3 linked regions of the Homo sapiens genome follow. The protein of the gene in region 1 purifies or fractionates together with the protein of each later gene. This does not show direct contact. Each region holds a gene or a part of one and is shown on either strand. Other genes may lie near its edges. The genes, in order: HEATR1, TSPYL6 and ALDH3A2.

Region 1 (7,112 bases):
GGTCTGGAACTCCTGGCCTCAAGCGATCCTCCTGCCGAGTCGGCCTCCCAAAGTGCTGGGGTTACAGGCATGAGCCACCACATCCAGTCCAACTTACATGTTTTAAAAGTAGATTTCTATTCCATTAATTGGAGACATGGCTTCAAGGCCAGCCTGGCCAGCATGGTAAAACCTGTCTGTGTGAAAAATACAAAAATTAGCTGGGCGCAGTGGCGAGCACTTGTAATTCTAGCTACTTGGGAGGCTGAGGCAGGAGAATTGCTTGAATCCAGGAGACAGATTTTGCAGTGAGCTGAGATCACGCCACTGCACTCCAGCCTGGGTAACAGGGAGACGCCGTATCAAAAAAAAAAAACAAAAAATGGAGACGTGGGGATAAACTAATTTTTTTTCAAGAAGCAAGTGAGTCATCAAGAAAACATGATTTTAACTTGGGTCTTCTGATTGTCAGAACATTAGGGCAATCAGACAAAGAATATTTAAAAGTCTGTAATATTTCCATCTGTTTTCTAGCACCTAACTTTACCCCCAAATAGATCATTAATGTAAGGAATACTTTTTGCATTTGATTTTTCATTTTATGTCTTCAGATAACTTATTTATTCAGCAAATACTAAGTTCAGTACATAGATAAGTAGGTTGCCGTTGATTACTGTTTTGAAATAAATGCCATAATAAAGGATTAAGCAGAGTTTTGTGGATATAGTTCTGCCTGGAATAGTTGAAGAAAGCTTCATGGAAAAAGTAACCGCTAAAACCGTATGTCAAACTAAGAGGCTGGGTTCAGTGGCTCACGCCTGTAATCCCAGCACTTTGAGAGGCTGAGGCAGGCCAGTCACTTGAGATCAGGAGTTTGAGACGAGCCTGACCAACATGGTGAATCCCTGTCTCTACTAGAAATACAAAAAAAAATTAGCTGGGTGTGGTGCTGTGCACCTGTAATTCCAGCTACTTGGGAGGCTAGGGCATGAGAATCGCTTGAACTTGGGAGGCGAAGGTTGCAGTGAGCTGAGATCACACCACTGCACTCCAGCCTGGGTGACCAAGTAGACTCTGGAAAAAAAAAAAAATCTAATAAAAGGCAATGTATGGTACTGTTTAAAAAAAGTACACGATGTAAAAGGATAGGAGAGTTTTCACAGAAGAGGGATCAGTTGGCAGAATTAGAAAAAACATCTTAGCCAGGCATGGTGGCTCACACCTGTAGTCCTAGCACTTTGGGAGGCTGAGGCAGGTAGATTGCCTGAGCTCAGGAGTTGGAGACCAGCCTGGGCAACATGGTGAAACCCCATCTCTACTAAAGTAAAAAAAAAAAATTAGCTGGGCATGGTGGTATGAGTTTGTAGTCCCAGCTACTTGGGAGGCGGAGGCAGGAGAATCTTTTAAACTTGGAGGTGGAGGTTGCAGTGAGCCGAGATTGTGCCACTGCACTCCAGCCTGGGCAACAGCAAGACTCCCTCTCAAAAAAAAAAAAAAAAAAAAAAAAAAAAATGTTGACAGACCAGCCTGGGCAACACAGGGAGACCTAGTCTCTACACAGAAATAAAAAATTAGCCAGCTGTGATGGTGCTCCCCTGTGGTCCCAGCTACTCAGGAGACCTAGGTGGGAGGATCATTTGAGCCTGGGAGGTTGAGGCTGCAGTGACCCGTGATCGTGCCACTGCACTCCAGCCTGAGTGGCAGAGCAAGACTCTATTCAAAAAATTAAATAAAAATTGTAAAGCTGAGAGAAAGTTAATGGGATGTATATTTTGATGTAGAATATTCAAAGATATTGCATAGGAATTGGCTGGACCATGTTGAGGGATATGTGAATGCAAAATTGGGGACTTTTTAAATGCTCTGTATCTTATAATTTTGTGATTTTTACTGCTACTCGTTCTAGGTTGTTTTAGCTTATTAATAATACAGTTTGGGCATGTGAGGAAATAGGTGCTTATTATTAAGTTTTGTGTTCAGTTGGACTGTTTGCTTTTTTTCCCCAGGTTCCATATACATCTCTATAATCAAGATAGCCTCATTGCTTGTGTTCTGCCATACCACGAGACAAGAATATTTGTGCGAGTCATACAGCTTCTAAAAATTAATAATTCAAAGCACAGATGGTTCTGGTTGTTGCCAGTTAAGGTATAATTGCTGAATGACATATGTCTGTAATCATTACAGATCTTGATTAAGGGATTTAATTAGGAAAAAATAAGTCATTGCTCCTGGGGATAGTCCAGATAACTACCTCCATCATTTTTATTTCCTGACTTCCAATTGAAACTATTATTAATGTTAATAATATTTAGCTTTTATTTAGTATCTGACATCAGGCTAGGCAATGTACATTATATTATCTTGGATTATCACAAAACTTCATTTTTACAGATGAGGACAGGCTACTTGCCAAAGTTCACATAACTATAAAGTGGCAGAGTTGAGATTTGAACCCAAATCTGATTCCAGAGTCTGTGCCTTTGTATCGTACCATGCCGTTTGGCATTTTAAATTTGGAACTGAGAACTTAAAAAAAAGTTGAAGGTGAAGAAAGGCAGAAAATACTTACAAAAATTAAAAGGATAAGGATAACTTCAGGGGTTTCAAGAATTTACTAAAGTTGTGAGGAAGATGCTAGGAGTTAATTTACAGACTAAGAAAAGGATGCTTGTATAACAGGAAGGGTCTGGGTAAGAAAAGACAGCATGCTATTGTAGGAAAACCAACTGACTAACCGTTAGCACTTTGTTTGCAACATATGGTGGAGGAAAGTAGATGTATGTTGTTAGCAGGAACTTGACTGCATGTTGGGCATGGTGATCCAGGGTAGGGGGGGAGGCAAATGGGGATGAAGGTAAGCTAACAGATCACGAGGCTGTGCACATTAGGCTGATGATGGTAGTGGGGTCAGTGTTCAGAATTAGTAAGATAGGAGTAATGAGGACTTTTTAATTAGAAGGAGAATTTAAGAATCTGAACGTAAAGCACTTGAACTAAAGAATGTTGGAGAAGGCCAGCCTTTGATAAAGCTCATTAACTGCTCTTCCCAACATTCACTCTGCCCATAGCATCAAAATTATTCTTCCTCTAATCTACCTTGGATCTTGCTGCTCCCTAGGCACTCTTATTGCAGGTAGCCAAACTCCACTCACCTACTAAAGTTCACTTAAAATTCTCCTTTCATTTATTTAATCAGTATTTATGGAGCATCTATTACATACCATGTACAACGCTAGATGGTGGGAATAGTGGTATAAGTTGTGCAGTTTCCTAGTCTATTTCTGTTCTTAGTGTTATTGTAAAGCAATGACAGAAGCGTATCATAGTGGCTCAGAAACCAAATCGAACCAGTAAAGTTACTAAGAATCTAGAGAATCCAGATTTTGATAAATACCTTTCAAAATGTGACATACGATAAGCAAACATCTTTCACTAAATACCTCTGCCCTCATTGCTGACCTTCTCTTTTGAATTTCTAAGTTTACATGATTTTATGTGTTAATTTCATCACCACCACCAGTTATAAGGAGAGATTATATTTTTTATTTATGAATTGTAGCAGTATGAAGACATTACTAGGGTAAATGCTTTAAAATAAGGATCAGTTGATGAATGTTGCTAGTAGTTTGTTCTTTCCATCAATAACAGCAATCTGGAGTGCCGTTAGCTAAAGGAACTTTGATTACCCACTGCTACAAAGATCTTGGATTCATGGATTTCATTTGCAGTTTGGTGACAAAATCTGTGAAGGTGAGCAGTCTGTTTCATGAGTATATAATTTTATGAAAAGATTGCTTGCTTTGAATGAAGAAAACATACTAAAACATTCCCTAATAACAATGATACTTTGGATAAATTTATTTTGTTAAATGGTCTGGTGTTTTGAAGCAGGAGCAGTTTGAGAGTCCGTATCTTTTTTTTTTTTTTTAAGAATCAGTCTTTTATCACCAAAGGTGTTTTTCTACAAAAATAAATGTCTATTCCTTGCCAGATTCTAGTTACAGTGACTATTCAAAGAGAGTGTCTAGAAATGTCGGGAATATTCAACCTGGGAAAGCTGTTTAAAAAATTTTAAGGCCAGGTGCGGTGGCTCACGCCTGTAATCCCAACACTTTGGGAGGCCAAGGCAGGCGGATCACTTGAAGTCAGGAGTTTGAGACCAGCCTGGCCAACATGGTGAAACACCGTCTCTACTAAAAATACGAAAATAAACTGGGCATGGTGGGGCATGCCTGTAATTCCAGCTGCTCGGGAGGCTGAGGCAGGAAAATCGCTTGAACCTGGGAGGCGGAGGTTGCAGTGACCCAAGATCATGCCACTGTACTGCAACCTGGGCGACAGAGACTCCATCTCAAAAAAAAAAAAAAAAAATTTTTTTTTAAATAAAAATGTTAGGAATATCATTAGGCAGTTAATTGTTGTCACATTGTGTATTCATTGTTGCATATGGTAATTCAGGAGAGCTGTAAATATTTATTTGGCCTTTCACTTTTTTTTTTTTTGGAGACATGGACTTGCTTTGTCGCCCAGGCTAGAGTACAGTGGTGCCATCATAGTTCATTGAAATCTCAGCCTTGAACTCCTGGCCTCAAGCAATCCTTCTACCTCCCTTTCACTGTTAAATGTGTTTTGTTTGTGTTCCTTGTTTCAGGTTTTTGCTGAGTACCCGGGCAGCTCAGCTCAGTTGAGGGTGCTCTTGGCTTTCTATGCTTCTACCATAGTGTCGGCGCTGGTAGCTGCAGAGGACGTATCAGACAATATCATCGCCAAACTATTTCCCTATATCCAAAAGGTTGGCACTGCTGATGTGTTAAGTAGATTATTTTGTACTTAAAGGAATTTTCTTGCTTTCGAAAGTTTTTTTAGATTTAAGTGTTTTTAAATTGACAGTTTATTTCAGATGATAGCTGAGATTTAGCCTTTAGGTTGAAAATATGACACTTTTTTATTAGAAACTCACTGGCCTGGGACCTTAATTAGGACTCTTAAGAATAAATATTGGCTGTCTGGTCCTGCGGCCATCTCCTAGATTGATTTCCATAGCAGTCTTTGTACCTCACTGGAAGGAGGACGGAGCAGACAGTCTCTTTGAGGCGTAAGCAACCTCTCAGTATTCTTTGTGCACTGGCTCCTGCCTCTCAGCGTTTCTCCTTCCCAAGTGCCTTCTTGCCTGCTGCCTTCCCAGGTGCCCTGTGGAGGTACTGCTTTCACTTCCCACCAGTGTCCCAACTTGTGACCTTTCATCAGACTTGTTTCTTCCATTAGTGATCTGATTGAGGTCTCCCTACTATAAGTAGGATTTTATGTATAAAAGAAGAGCTTACTGGCTCCTGTCAGGACATGTGGTAGATGTTTGAGTTGGGAAATTTTCTGAGATCCTTTGTCTCGTTCAACAGACTTGTCTCATCTCTGTATCCACTCTGAAAAAGGGGTCAGCTCCTTTATTGTTTATGTCTGAAGAGTGATTGACTATGCATTAGGTTGTATTAATCTCTATGACATTTCTAATTTGTCAGATTAACATTTAAAGTAGCAGAAAATAATATGGTTTATCATTTTTCCTTATATTTAAAAAATATTTAGGGATTGAAATCATCTTTACCAGATTACAGAGCTGCAACATACATGATAATATGTCAGATTTCTGTGAAAGTGACCATGGAAAATACCTTTGTGAATTCATTGGCATCACAGATCATCAAAACATTGACCAAGATTCCCTCTTTGATCAAGGATGGGTTAAGTTGCTTGATAGTGCTCCTGCAGAGACAGAAGCCAGAGAGCCTTGGGAAAAAGTATGTACAATTGAATTGAGAAATGGTGCTAGTCAGAGGTGAATAAAATTATTTTGAATAATTTTTTTTTGTAAGATAAGTGATTATATATTTTCTTATATTGTTACTCATTGTCTAACTTGTAAAGTCAACACGATATGTACTTTTGCTTCTTCAAAGGCCATTCCCTCACTTATGTAATGTTCCTGATCTTATTACAATACTTCATGGGATTTCTGAAACTTACGATGTCAGTCCTCTTCTGCATTACATGCTTCCCCATCTGGTCGTCTCCATCATTCATCATGTTACAGGTGTGTGGTTTTATATTTTTTGTCCAGAAATTTTCTAAGATTTGATCTTAAAATAGTAACCATATCCTGGTTAACAGCTTCAAAATATTTAAAATTTCTGTTTTCCAGTTGTTCTTGTGTAACTTGTCTATTTCTTAAGTGAGAAACATCTGGGGTGGGGAGCAGGTTGGTTGAAGAAAGATCATTGTTAATTGAGTAATTTCTTAGAATTTTACTTTTTTTAAGATCTGTGTTCTTAAATACTTAAATAGTCTCTACATGAAAAAGACTGGAATACTTTTAAAATTTATTACTGAGTAAACCTTTGCCTTCTCATTTAGGTATTTAATGAACTTTAGTGATTCATTTATAATGAATATCTCATCCAGTTGCCAAAAAAGTTTTTTCCCTAGAGTAATTAAAAATATAAGACCAAGAAAATTTTTATACATAAAAATCCAAATTATGAAACAAAGCAAAAAGCAAAAAGTAATAATTAGAGGGCCAGGTGGCTCAAACCTATAATTCTAGCACTTTGAGAAACTGAGATGGGCAGATCATGGCAAAACCCCGTCTCTACAAAAATATACAAAAATTAACCGGGCATGGTGACATGCAACTGTGGTCCCAGCTGCTCGGGAGACTGAGGTGGGAGGATCACCTGAGTCCAGGGAGTTCGAGGCTACAGGGAACTGTGTTTGTGCCACTGCAGTTCAGCCTGGGCGACAGAGTGAGACCCTATCTCAAAAATAATAATAATAATTAGAAAGTGATTATTTGCATTATGTCTTTTAATAAATACAGAAAGGCTAGGAAGAAACATTTGGTTCTGTTGCTACTTGGAGAATACTAAGAAAGACTTCTCTAAACTTATGTCAGTCTACTGAAAAATGAGGTTTTTGTAACCAAATCTTGGTTTGAACATGCATTTTAGAAAAGTGACTAGCAAAATGAAAATGTATTCTTCCTATTCTGAAGGTAATGAGTAATGTCCCAGTCTTTGAAAGCAAGGGCTAAGATCAGATTCATATGTTTATTATAAATCTGAAATAGATGACAGCTT
Region 2 (6,959 bases), on another chromosome or scaffold:
TGAACACAATAGTTTCCAGTCTTCCGCATCAGATAAGACCAAGTTATTCAAATTAAAATGTTAAAGATACGGTTTTAACAGAAACAAGAACAGGCTGAAAACTGCCATGAATATCCATATCCACATAATGTACAAAAAAGAAAGACTGATATTATTCCAAATATTTCTATTTGAAAGTAAAAGAAAATCTGTACAGCTGAATCTTCCCAGTAAACAGAAAGAGAAAATATTATAACACAGTATTAATCTTCCACATAAGTAAGGCCATATGCAAACAAGAAAGAGAACACCCAAAATTGCAGTGTTTCTTCAAAGAACCCTTCTCTAGGGAACATATTTAACACTCCAACCATCTTCTATTCTTCTACGTGCATACTAAAAAAAAGTACTTCTCTTCCCATCATAACTAGTCAACCCAGTGTAAATTCTAGGCCCGATTTTCCCCTGAATCATTTCTGCCTTTTTGTTCAGTTTTCCCTGCCTAGAGCACCCATCACAATCTCTTTAGTTCTTCTATCCACTCTGAACTAGAAATCACCTTTCATTCCATACAGCTCTGTAGTCCTTTAAACCCTCTAGGAATTGCTAAAGAGGGGTGAGGGGCTGAGAAGAAAGGAGAATGGGCAATAAGAGGTCTGGCAGTCTATTTTACAGAACAGCCTGCCTCTGGACATGACAAAGAGAGCCAAGAAACTAAAAAGCCTGCTTCTGCGGATGTTTCTGAACTACTACTTTTGTTTTTTTTAAAGGAAGACAGAAGAGATTTATGAGAGATGAGAGAAAAGAAAGTGTACACTCACTCTGGCACTTCATTAGGTTCAGGAAGGGAGGCAAATAAAGGTACCTAGATTTTGAATGAATCCACTGGTTGTGGCTGAGAAAGCCTGGTACTTGTCAAGAACACCAACATATTAACCTTGCCATGAGGATAGGGTCTGACATGTCCCCTCAACCACCTGTCTAACAAACAGTAGGGTTTCTGAGTGATGAGGGTGGTGGTGGTAAAGAGAGGTCTTTTGGAAGAGGAACAGGTCTTTTGTGTGCTGACAGGAAAGCTGTGTCCACCACCAGTGTTCTGGAGATCCCTGTTTATTAGAAACCAGAGAGTGGAGCTGGCAATGGTCTGGGATATGTTCACTCAGCAGGGAGCTGCCCAAGTAGCAGTACTTGGGAATAGCCAGTAGCAGGCAGCAATAGGTGACCAGTCTCAGGAAAAGTAATGGGGTCCCATAATTCACACAGACCAACTTGCCCCCTGCTGTTCTCCCTTGACTTCATTAATGCCCAGCAATTGTCCACAGGCCATGCACCTGTACTGTCAGATGCAGAGCAGGGTGAGCTGAATAGGTTCTTAGACACAGCTAGAAATCCAAGTAGGAGGAGCCAGACCAGAGGTCCTGGGAACAAACCGAGTCCAAACAAAGGTAAATACAGTGTAACCTACAGCATCATTCGCTTCGCTTAGAAGGATGTGACCCATCGGCTGGGAGCATGTGATGTTAATGCAGAATAGCAAGACGACCAGGTGAAAGGGGAGCAGCACAGCCACCAAGGTCTCAATCTTCAGGTTGAGAGAACGGAAAGTTTAAACAGAGGGTACAGGAAAGTCAGAACAAAAAAAGTAAAGGGCATACCTAATGCTGTTGCCCAAGCTCAGGTCCAGCTGGTGGTGGCAGGCAACCTTCTGCAGGAGTAATTCCAAAGGCAAAGGTTAACCACACTGGAACCCAAAGGGCCTGGGGATCTCCACTGGCTCCCTTACCAGGCGACGTCTAGCTCTATGGGCGTCTTCACCCAACAGGTAGTACTGCAGTGGATTTGACCAGAGGTCCTCTTTAATAATCTGAGCAATCCTGTCGGACTCTGGAAGGCTGTGGTCTGAAAACCAGGTGAAGAAGCTGCAGATGACATGTCGGTTCCTATGAATGAAGGACTGGGGTCCATGGCCCCGGCGCCACATGATTAGAGTGGAAAAAGACACCACTTGGCCGAAGGATCTGACCTCATACACCTTTACAATCAGCTTGTTTCTGAAGTAAGGGTTTCTTTGAAAGAAGAACTTAAACTTGCAGCCTGTCCTAGGGTGTCTGAGCTCCTTCACTTCCAAATTGGTTAAGTAGCTTAACATCTCGGCATCTTGGCCTCTAATCATGGCAGACAGCTGTGGGTGGTGGCGGAAAGCAGTGACCCAGAAGCCCGGGATATTGCGAATGATGTCATTCCTCTGCTCCAGGTAGTATTCATGAATCTGCCCAAACCTGCGCTCCACCTGCAGGAGCGCCCTGTCAGCCTCTGCATTCACGGAGTCCAGTTCCAGCTGGATGGACTCCAGGGGGTTCAGGTGGAGACCCACGTTCAGGGGCCCGGGCCCGGGCCCAGGCCCTGCCTCCCTGTTTACCTCATCTATTGCTCTGTTTTCTTCCGCCACGTCCATTTCTTCGCCTCCTGGCTTCTCATCCACTGGGGCTGAGAACATGGCACACTCCTCAGGCTTCACGTCCTCGGCCTTCCCCTCTGCAATCACTTCAGACTCCGACCTCCCTGCCCCACAGGTTTCTAGAGCCTTCTCCCCACCTAGGCCGTGCGTCTCTTCACCCGGAAAGCCATTTTTGAGGCTGCCGTCAGTTGTCAGCGAGGCAGAGGCCGCTTCTAGGCCCTCCGCGGGTGGTGGAGTCACTTCCTGCCCCGCTTTGATGGCTCCATGACTGCGACCCGCATCGACCAAGATGTGGAAAGTATGGCCACCATCTGCGGGATCCTGGGGCGCGACCCCCTCCTCTGGAAGCCGGGGCGGTGGGAACACGATTGGCTCCAAGCGGCCATCAAACATATCTGCCATTACCTCTGTCGCCTTGCTCTTTTCTCGGGACCTCTGGCCCTGGTGCGGGTCTTCCAGAGCATAGTCGAGAGTAGCGGGGCTGTGAGGACTCTCCGGGAGGCTCATGTTGGTAGCGGCCAGGGCAGCAGTGGGTAGAGGCCAGGCCAGAGGTAGGTAGCGTCAACGTTCCTCACACAAAATGGCGAGTAAACACCTCGCCCATTTGCGCCGCCCACTCTTCAGTCTCGCGACACCCACCCCTCAGTCTCGCGACACTCACTCCTCAGTCTCGCGAGTCTGTGGTGGTGTCTTTACGTCTTTGTTATTTTAGCCATCGTGCTGGATGAGTAATGATATTACATGGTGGTTTTAATTTGCATTTAGCCAAAGTCTAATGAGCTGAGAACCTTCTCATGTGTTTGTTGGCCACTAGGATATTCTCTCTTGTGCAGTATCCGAGGCTTCTCCCTATTTCTCTACTGGGCTGACGTTATTTTTCATATGGATTTGTAGGAAGCCTTTGTACATGCTAGATACTAGTCAGTCATTCTTCCAGTATAGGTATTACAAATATTTCTCTTCCAGTATAGGTATTACAAATATTTCCTCCCACTCTGTGGGGTTACTTTTCTTTTGGACTCGTAGTTTCGCTGTCGCCGAGGCTGGAGTACAATGGCATGATCTCAGCTCACTGAAGCTGCCGCCTCCCAAGTTCAAGCGATTCTCCTGCTTCAGCCTCCCAAGTAGCCGGGATTACAGGCGCCCACCACCATGCCCGGTTTTTTTGTTTGTTTGTTTTGTTTTGTTTTGTTTTGTATTTTTAGTCAAGACATGGTTTTGCCATGTTGGCCAGGCTGGTCTGAACTCCTGGCCTCAGGTGATCCGCCCATCTTGGCCTCCCAAAGTGCTGGGATTACAGGCATGAGCAACCGTACCTGGCCTACTTTTTCACCATCTTAATGGTACCTTTTGAAGAACAAAAGTTTTTCATCTTAATATGTGCCAATTTGTCATTTTCCCCTTTACCTTAGTGTTTTTCTGCTCTGTTTAAGAAATCTTACCTCTCACCTGGGCACAGTGCCTCACACCTGTAATCCTAGCACTTTGAGAGGCGGAGACGGGAGGATCAGTTGAGCCTAGGAGTTGGAGACCAGCCTGGGCAACACAGCAAGACCCCATCTCTATTTTTAAAAAGAAGAAAAAAAGAGGAATCTTATCTCACCAAGATTGTTCAAATTTATATATGCCATCCATCTGGAATTGATTTTTATGAGTGGGGTCACAATTTCTTTTTTTCCATATGAATATCTAATTGACCCAGCACTGTTTATTGAAAAGACAATTCTTTCCCCATGCATAGGTTTTTAAATGTTTCTGTCAGAAGTGACATAAATCATTGGCTACAGCTAGTCAGTTGGCCTTGTCTAACTTTAATAGGACAGGGAGGTGTAATCTTCTCTTGAGCCTGGAAGGAGGAAACTGGAAATATTGGCAAGTGCTGTATCACTCATCATGAAAAATAATTTGAGAAATATATAAAAGACCAATAGAATTAGGCCAAAGGACATAGAGAAAAGGTAATAATAAACAGGAGAAATTTATGTAAGACAATACAGAGCATTAACCAAAGATTAATAATAAAAGGAGAGAGAAAATAAGCAATATTTGGAGAGAAAATTATAGTCACATTGATGGTTTAAATAAATATAAGACAGGATGTTAGACAGCTTTATGCCAATACATTTTCAAACTTAGATGAAATATATGGCTTCATAGAAATGTATAACTTATCAACACGGACTGAAATGCAATAGAAAATCTAAATAGACCTAGAGACAATAAACAAATGGAATCAGTAGCTTAAAAAAATGTTTCCACAAAAATAGCATGAGGTTCAAATGATTTTGAGGCGACTGCTACCAAACCTTCAAGGAACACATAATCCATTTTTATATTTATTAAACATTCAACAAATATTTATTAAACATTCAACAAATGTTTATTGGGTACCTACTGTGTGCCTGGTACTCTTATAGGCCCTCTGGATATAACGGTGAACAGACCAAAGATTTCTTCCCTCTTGGGGTTTACATTTTAGCAGGGGAGAAAGATAATAACAAGAAACCAATATTGCACATTAGAAAGTTATAAGTGCTATGGAAAAAACAATAGAGCAAGGAGATTGAAAGTCCTGGGGGTAGGGAGTGGGGAGGAGATTGTAGTATGAAATAGGGTGGTCAGAGGAAGCCTCATTGAAAATATGAGATTTTGGCAAAGAGTCAAAGAAGTTGAGGGAGTCAGCTAGTAGAAATCCTGGAGGAGAGCATTTCAGCACGAGAAGTGCTAAGCAGAGGCACTAAGACAGGAGCATGTCTGGAATGTTCAAGAAATAACAAGGAGGCCAGCGTGACTGGAGCACAGTGAATGAGGGAGGCTAGATCAAGTAGGGTCTTGTATGATAGTGTAAGAAATTTGGCTTTTATTCTTAGTGAAATGGGAAATTACTACAGGATTTTGAGCAGAGGACACAAAATCTGACTTAAGTTTTGCGTGAATCACTCTGGCTCCTGGGTGAAAAATAATCTGTATGGTGGCAATGGTAGATTTAGGGGGATCTTTTGGGAGGCTACTGCAGTAACCCAGGTGAAAGATGTTTCTCAGACCAGGTGGCAGCAATGGAGGTGGATGGTGGACATAGTATGATGGTAGAGTCAGCCTGATTTAATGGTAAATTGGCTATGGGATCTCTTAGTTCATTTTCTGTTGCTGTAACTGAATACCTGAGACTGGGTAATTTATAAAGAAAAGCTTATTTAACTCACAATTCTGGATGCTGAGAAGTCCAATATGCTGTGCTATGAAGTAGCATGACAAAAAAGCAGAAGAGCAAGCAAGCACCTGGGAAAGAATGGACAAGAGAGGCTGACTTGCATTATAGCAACCCACTCTCTCAAAAACTAATCCATTCCCATGAGAAGTTATCCAGCCTTGCAAGAAAAACATAAATCCATCTTAACAACCTGATCACCTCTTAAAGGCCCCACCTCCCAGCATGGGGTGTAAGAGAAAGAGAGAAGTCAAGGATGACTCCAATGATTTTGACATGAGCAACTGGTAGGATGGAGTTACTGGAAGCAGAGATGGTGAAGGTTATAATGAGGAAGATCTTTGCAGGAAAATCAGAGTTGTCTCTCTTTTTTAACATATTGTTTGAGATGATTATTGGACACCAGAGTTGAGATGCCAAGTGGGCATAATGAGTTTAGAGCTCAGGAGAGGTCTGAGATAGTTATTCACATTTTGGGATAATCAGCATGCATGGAATTTAAAGTCAAAGGGTTGGATGAGAACACTAAGATAGTGAGTCCTGATAAGCTGGGCCCTGAAGACTCCAAAAGTATAAGGTCAAGAAAAAGAGGAAAAACAGCAAGGAAGACTGAAGAGAGACCAGCAGGGTAGGAAGGAAACCAAGAGAGTGCAATGTGCTTGAAGCCAAATGTGTAAAGGAAGGTGTTCAGCTGTGTCACAGGGTGCTCACATGTCAGTTAGTATGAGGTCTGAGAATTGACCGTCGGATTTTACAACAAAGAGTCACTGGTGACTCAAAAAGAGCACTTTCAGTGGAGTGGTGGGGGTTGAAATATGTTTGAAAGGGAAAGGGAGAAAAGAAATGGAGATTGAATATTGACAATTCTTTTGAGGAATTTTTCTCCAAAAAGAAACAAAGAAATGGGATCATGACAAGAGTAGTCAAGCTACTTTCAGTGGAGTGGTGGGATAATAGCTTGGCTGGAATAAGTTTAAGAGAAAACAGGAAGCGAAAAAGTGAAAACAGCGAGTATATACAACTGTTTTGAGAAGTTTTGTTTCAAAGAAATGGGATGATAGCTGGTGGGGAAATGGATCAAAGAACGTGTTTTTAAAATGGGAGATGAAGCATGTGTAAAGAAGCAGGTTGATGTGAATGATCCAGTAGGGAGCATAAAACTAATGATGTAAGAGACAGAAGGAAGCATTATTGGAGGGATGTCCTGGAATAGACAAGAGGAGGTGGAATCTAGTACCTAAGTGGAGAAGGAGATGTCAGCTTTAGGAGCATGGCAAGTTCACTAGTGGTAACTGGCAGGAAGTCAAAGTGTGA
Region 3 (7,112 bases), on another chromosome or scaffold:
TGAACCCTGGCAAGAATCGCTTGAACCCGGGAGGCAAAGGTTGCAGTGAGCCAAGATCACGCCACTGCACTCCAGCCTGGGCGACAGAGCAAGACTCTGTCTTTAAAAAAAAAAAAAAAAAGAAGAATGGGATGACCAAATGACCAGTGTGACTGAGTTCAGCAGTGGGTGAGGATCATTAACCCCTCAGATGAAAGAAATTATTGGAGCAGTCACTGTTTACTCGACAGATGTTAATTGAGCACTAAAAGGAAGGATCAAAAACACCAAAGAGTAATGCATGTGATCTGAAAATGAAAATTGTTGGCCAGACATGGTGGCTCACGCCTGTAATCCCAGCACTTTGGGAGGCCAAGACAGGTTGATCACTTGAGGTGAGGAGTTAGAGACCAGTTTGGCCAACATGGCAAAACCCATCTCTACTAAAATTACAAAAATTAGCCGGGCATGGTGGCACGCACCTATAATTCTAGCTACTTGGGAGGCTGAGGCACAAGAATTGCTTGAACCCGGGAGGTGGAGCTTGCAGTGAGCCAAGATCATGCTACTGCACTCCAGCCTGGGTAACGGAATGAGATTTTATCTCAAAAGAAAAAAAGATATGAAAATTGTCGCCGTTGTGGTGGTTCACTCCTGTAATCCGAGCACTTTGGGAGGCTAAGGTGGGAAGATCGCTTGAGCCCAGGAGTTCAAAACCAGCCTGGTCAACATAATGAGACCCTGTGTCTACAAAAGAAAAAAAGGTTAGCTGGGTATGGTGGCACATGCCTGTAGTCCCAGCTACTCAGGAGGCTGAAGCCAGAAGGATCACTTGAGCCCAGGAGTTCAAGGCTGCAATGAGCCATTATTGCATCACTGTGCTCCAGCCTGAGTGACAGCATAAGACTCTGTCTCAAAAAAACAAAAAAAGAGAAAATTGGCTGGGCACAGTGGCTCACTCCTGTAATCCCAGCACTTTGGAAGGCCAAGGCAGACAGATCACTTGAGGCCAGGAATTCAAGACCAGCTGGGCAACGTAGCAAAATCTTGTCGCTACAAGAAATACAAAAATTCAGGTGTACCGGCGTGTACGTGTGGTCCCAGCTACTTGGCAGGCTGAGGTAGGAGGATCGCTTGATCCTCCTGGGAGGCGGAGGCTGCAGTGAGCCAAGAATGTGCCACTGGACTCCAGCCTGGGTGACAGAGTGAGACCCTGTCTCAAAAAAAAAAAAAAAAGAGAAAATTATGTACCAGGAAGTTCAGGACAATAGTTCACTATGTGTTCCAGGCAGAGTAACTTGGGGGATGAGGTGCTAGGGTCTTGACATGGAAATTGGACTATCATTTTTAGTCATAGGACTAAAAATGGATCCAGATGAGCACATGAAGGGAGAGTTGCCCAGATTCAGGGTATGTGGGAAGAGAGAGTGGTTAAAGATACTTGTGAGATTGAAAATATTTGGGAATTGGAGAATGCTTAGTTGAGTGTGGTGATGAATTCAATTTCAAAGGAATAAGGGCCTCTGCCTCCCTTTGAGGCATTTATACTCTTAACACAGTGGTTCTCAAGCTACATGTTACCCTAGTGAGCCATTTAAAAACAAGTTTGCAAGCCTTACCCTCCAAAGATTCAGCTCGTCTGAGGCCTCCAGGTGATTCTATGATGCATTCAGCATTGAAAACTACTGTTGGTGACTCTCGAGTCAGAGCCCAGGCACATGCATTTTAGCAAGCTGCACCAGTGATTCCGACCACCCAGACTTGAGAATTGCTCTTGGTAGAGGTTGGATGAACAATGTTCATTTTGATTTGGGATGAAATTGGGAACTCTCACAAGGCTTTGAAGTGATGCAGCAATTCAGTAATTTTGTTTGTTTTACTAAGTAAATATTGATTGTATGATTATTGACGTTCTTTTACCTTGGTAATTTACCAAAGCTGTATTTTGATCCTTCGGGTGGTTTCACCATCATGTGTAAGTGGTGGAAATACCAGTTCAAAGAAGACCAAAACAACAAAGTGGAGCAAAGATTGGCAAATGGTTTCTGTAAAGGGCTAGATGGTAAATATTTCAGGCTTTGCAGATGTTAGGGTCTCTGCTGTAACTACCGAACTTACTGTAGGGGGAAAGCAGGCACAGCCAATGTGCTAACAAATAGGCAACTCTGATGCAGAGCAAGACTTCTTTCCCCAGCCTGCTCCCACTGTCAGCCCCAGGAGGTGAAGGCCTGTGGGTGGACTCTAAGAGATCCATAAGAACCTTTGGAACTATGGACAATGACAGATCTCTGTGTGTGTGCATGCTTTATTTTCTGGTCCTCGACCTGCCAAAAAGCTGAAACTTGCTACTATCATACTACTGTTAAATTACTTGAGGGGTGGGGTGTTAGATTCTGTGAGGATATAAAACCAGATTGATTTTGGGGCATGGCTGGATTTTGTACTTACTGAAATTGAATTGTGGGTCTTTGTGACATTTATATACTCCTGTTGTTTTAAATAGGAATTTTATGGAGAAAATATAAAAGAGTCTCCTGATTATGAAAGGATCATCAATCTTCGTCATTTTAAGAGGATACTAAGTTTGCTTGAAGGACAAAAGATAGCTTTTGGTGGGGAGACTGATGAGGCCACACGCTACATAGGTAATGGAAATTCTCCTTTTCCTATGGGAAGATGGCAATTTGGCAGTTTTTGCTGACACTACTTATTAACACTAGATAAACTATTAAATATATAGCATTTAATTGTTAAAGTACTAAATCCTGCTTTCTGGTATACTGTACCTGTAGCTTTTGTTATAAACTATTTAAAATGTCTGTGTTTCTGTGTATTGAATGATGCCACCAGCGTTGCTCCAGTTGTTCATATTTACACATAACTCCTTTTTTCCTCCTAACAATCCTGAGAAGCAGAATAGAACTTGATGTAATTATCTGTAGTTTGTGGATGGGAAAACAGCACAAAGAAGGAAATAGCTTGGCCACTATTCCACAATTAACCAGTGACGGTACCATTCCAGAAATAATGTTTTGGTCCATCATGCTTGACCTTATTATTTGTGTACCTTCTTTGTGCTTTTTCTTCTTTGCCTTGAATATGTATTACTTTGAATGTTAAGCACATTTTTCTACAGTAACATATAAGGTGACAGAAAAATTAGACACATTTTGCTGGCAAAGAAGCTGCACCACCTAGCTTTACTTATCCCCTTTATCAGATAAGATGCTATAAGTCACCAAAAAAAAAAAAATCAACTTTAAAAAAAAAAACTTAAAAATGAAATAATAAGCAGAATTGATTCTCTTATAATTAGCAGTCCCGAGGTTCTCCTGAGCTAGATAATTCAGTGGCCCCGTGGTACCATCAAAAAACCCTGATTCTTTGTACTAGGATGCAAAAGAAAACAATCCTTGTGCCTTCTATCTCTCTTGGTGGCAGCCCAGATTGAATTGGGGAATACATCTGTAGAAAAAAGAGAAAACAGACTCTACTTGTTTCACCTCTCTGTTCTCCCATCCTCAGCATGTCCACATTGCCTATTTCTAGGCTAATGAATGGTAAGAGGAAGGGGCTATCCTGATTAGCTTATAGACTAATTAGGACTTTCCCCTGACTTCGAGCTGGGATCATCTTACCTGAGCATGGCTATGCAGAGGAAGTAGACACTCAGCCCAAATTGTTTCTCTGACCTGAGGAAGATGTGGGCAATGGATTTGGAGTGGCAGTTTATATACCCCCTGGAAGTGGTGCTGCAAGAAGCTGTCCCCAGCCACATTGCCAAGATAACCTATTAGAAACTGGGGGTAAAGGAAAAGTGCCAACTTGTTATTGTCAGATGACTTCTCTTTTGGTTGACGAGCCAGTTTCTTACTTACAGCATCTTTTGGAGTACTGCTAGTTGGTGACTTACATTGGCAGCAGATGCTGGGACACTTTGTCTAGCCTCCCCAGCATCTGTTTCACCCTCCTTTCTTGTGCCTCTTCCCCATGGTAGATGGAACAGTGGACTAAGGTTTAGGGAATTTTGACCATTTAAGTCTGTTTTCTTAATCTGTCTAACAGAGTTATAATAAAGGTTAATGAGATCATATATATGAAAGCACTCGAGTTAAGAAAAATAGTATTGATTTGATTCACAGAGGAGCTGTCTTTGCTCCTAGAAAGACCTGTCCATTCGAGACCAGCCTGACCCAACATGGAGAAACCTCATCTCTACTAAAAATACAAAACTAGCCGGGCGTGGTGGTGCATGCCTGTAATCCCAGCTACTCGGGAGGCTGAGACAGGAGAATCACTTGAACTCCAGAGGCGGAGGTTGCAGTGAGCCGAGATGGCACCATTGCACTCCAGCCTGGGCAACAAGGGCGAAACTCCATCTCAAAAAAAAAACCTGTCCACAGAAAAATGTTAAGTATAATCTACAGTTAAATACATGCATGGCTGTGAACAGGGTTCAATGTGAAAAAGATATATTTGAGTGTGTATCGTTCCCTTGGTTTGCACAAGTATCCGCAGGGTTGTGATTCACAGGCTTTGGAGACATTGAGTATGTGCACAGTTCATCCACGTGCTCAGGATTTTTCAATAGATATGACTTGGGTGGGAGAGGGAAAGGCATGGATAAGTGACCCAATGAAAGAGATGTAATATGAGAGTTGTGCATTTTTGTCTAATAAGCATTTTCATTTTGTTTATTTTCTTTTTAGCCCCAACAGTACTTACCGATGTTGATCCTAAAACCAAGGTGATGCAAGAAGAAATTTTTGGACCAATTCTTCCAATAGTGCCTGTGAAAAATGTAGATGAGGCCATAAATTTCATAAATGAACGTGAAAAGCCTCTGGCTCTTTATGTATTTTCGCATAACCATAAGGTAAGCTTTAGAGAGAACAGCTAGTTAGCATAAGCAACTGTCAAGAGTCATGTTCCTTCTTTGCTGTAAAACAATGCAAAAAACAATGTGAAACAATGATGGTTTCTTTTGTGTCATGTCAGAGTCCATCCACTAAGTGAGGTTGTGTTCCGAGGTTGCTGTCTTGGTTAATGAGACTCTGGGGTTATCACAGCATCCATTCCCCTCCTCCCTCGGGTTAGATCTGAGTCTGCAGGGTTGAGTGTCACAAGGTTTTTGATTCACAAACATCTCCTGTATAATTGGAAGACTTATATGTGCCAGCATTAAATGCTTTTCTGATGTTAATCCACAGGGCATTGCTGAATAACAGCCTGCACAAAATGGCATTCACACCCACTGTGTGGGACAAAGACCCCGACACTGTCACATAAATGGTTGTGATATGATGGATTTTAGTTTCTAACATGACGCTAGCTTCTTGTTAGAGTGGTGGAACTGCATCACCTGGTTGAGCAGTTCTGCCACTTTCTGCATGGCTCACTCATTCATGTCACTAGGTGACCAGCCGCTACTAAGAGACCATGGCCCAAATGTTTTCTGGAGAGCTTCTGATGGTAATGTATAGATAGTCATGTGACAGCTTTTGGAGCTTGTGAGACTATTGAGATACAGATAGCTACAGGTATTTGAAGTGAGACCAAATGTGTGGGGCTCAGTAAAGACTGGGTTATTAACAAAACAATGGTTTGACATTTAAAACCATGGATAATGTGGGCAGGAAGGAACCCTGAAGCCGAAAGTAGGCTGGCCAGGGTATAAGTCAGGTGTGGAGCACTTCCCAGCAGTGGGTCACCCGAGGTCACTATAGTCCAGACTTGACGTTTGCCATGAACAATTGTCAAGGGCTTGCTGGCACCCAAGGGTAAATGACGTTTACTAGTCAAGTGTTCTTGTGCTTTTCTGAGCCTTAGGCCAAACAACCATTTATTTCTTAAAAAATAGGATGCTAAATCTAAAGTCTTAAATATTTTTACATTTCATAAAGACTAAATAATACCTATTAATCATGTGTTATAATTTAAAGCAGAGATAAGAAAGAAATAATAACAGTTTTTAAAGCTGGAATATAGTCTAAGCTGTCCCCTTTTAAAGAGTCTTTTGCTGCTGTGTTGGGGAGTACAACTCCAGGTTGTGGCTGAGTAGGCCCAGAGGTTTGGAGCTGCCTCCTTTTGTGCACTAGATGTGTGTCTGAGAAGTTGGGTATCAGTCACTTTGCTAAATTAACCAGTTGAGATTGTTTGTCTATCTGGCATGGTGTCCCCAAACTCGAGAATTTTCACTGACACAAAGCCAGAATGTGCATGCTTTGAGCACATAACTGAGCACACAGCCCTCTGTGTGGTGGGGCCATGAGTGTTCCCTAAGGGGCAACTTCACTGACCTGGACACCTTTGGTCTGTCCTCAGCTCATCAAACGGATGATTGATGAGACATCCAGTGGAGGTGTCACAGGCAATGACGTCATTATGCACTTCACGCTCAACTCTTTCCCATTTGGAGGAGTGGGTGAGTCTTATTTTCTCCTGCTTGTAGTAGATATTTCAAAAGCACCACCATTTCATGAGTGGATTGTATGGGCTGCTGAAATAGCCAGCTGTTGCGTACCCTGATTGTCCTCTCCTGAGGGAGACCTTTTCCTGGTCACCCAGTTGACTGGTTTTCCTGCTTCCCCACCCACCCCTCCAGCATAGGGCAAATGTCTTGTCACTCTCTTTCTGTCAGCAGCACTGACTGACCACAGCTTTGTTCACTTCGTTGATTTTGTTATCCTGCCACATTTAGGAGATTTGGGAACCAAGAATCAGGTCTCAAATTAATTAAGAAGATCTCTCTTCGTGTGTGTGTGTGTGTGTGTGTGTGTGTGTGTGGTGTGTGTGTTTAATGAAGTAGCAAATGAAAGGTTCGGAATACCAGGGACAGAAGGTAGAGGGGTTTTCTAATGTGCCTTTGTTTTCTGCTCAGTTCTTACCTGCATTGTTCCCCAGCCCTTTGTTGGGAGGAGCAGCCTCTCCTTGAATTGTTTTGTGATTTGAGTAAAACGGGACTCCCCCTGTTCTAGAGAGGATGGGCAGAAAGAAATTCATTCCAAGTGAAGCTTTGTGGACATAGCCTGATCCTTGCTTTTCCCTTTAGAACATGACCTGCCTGCCTCTCCCACATGTGAGATGACTGACTCAGCTTTTTATTTCTCCTTTGGGACCTAGGCTAGGTGGGC

The links.
Region 2: the proteins of HEATR1 (region 1) and TSPYL6 purify together in Homo sapiens (affinity purification with mass spectrometry; 2 studies listed by BioGRID and IntAct, with this or other methods). This does not show direct contact.
Region 3: the proteins of HEATR1 (region 1) and ALDH3A2 purify together in Homo sapiens (affinity purification with mass spectrometry; 2 studies listed by BioGRID and IntAct, with this or other methods). This does not show direct contact.

The regions. Positions count from the first base shown.
Region 1 is NC_000001.11:236,594,498-236,601,609, reverse strand, and holds part of HEATR1 (HEAT repeat-containing protein 1), read left to right. Parts: intron 1-1,985; coding exon 1,986-2,127; intron 2,128-3,630; coding exon 3,631-3,732; intron 3,733-4,633; coding exon 4,634-4,774; intron 4,775-5,565; coding exon 5,566-5,777; intron 5,778-5,936; coding exon 5,937-6,070; intron 6,071-7,112. UniProt on the Homo sapiens protein: Ribosome biogenesis factor; required for recruitment of Myc to nucleoli. Involved in nucleolar processing of pre-18S ribosomal RNA. Required for optimal pre-ribosomal RNA transcription by RNA polymerase I.
Region 2 is NC_000002.12:54,253,208-54,260,166, forward strand, and holds the start of TSPYL6 (testis-specific Y-encoded-like protein 6), read right to left. Parts: upstream 3,023-6,959; 5' UTR 2,945-3,022; coding exon 1,712-2,944; 3' UTR 1-1,711.
Region 3 is NC_000017.11:19,658,645-19,665,756, forward strand, and holds part of ALDH3A2 (aldehyde dehydrogenase family 3 member A2), read left to right. Parts: intron 1-2,482; coding exon 2,483-2,624; intron 2,625-3,355; exon of another isoform or gene 3,356-3,446; intron 3,447-4,688; coding exon 4,689-4,855; intron 4,856-6,303; coding exon 6,304-6,403; intron 6,404-7,112.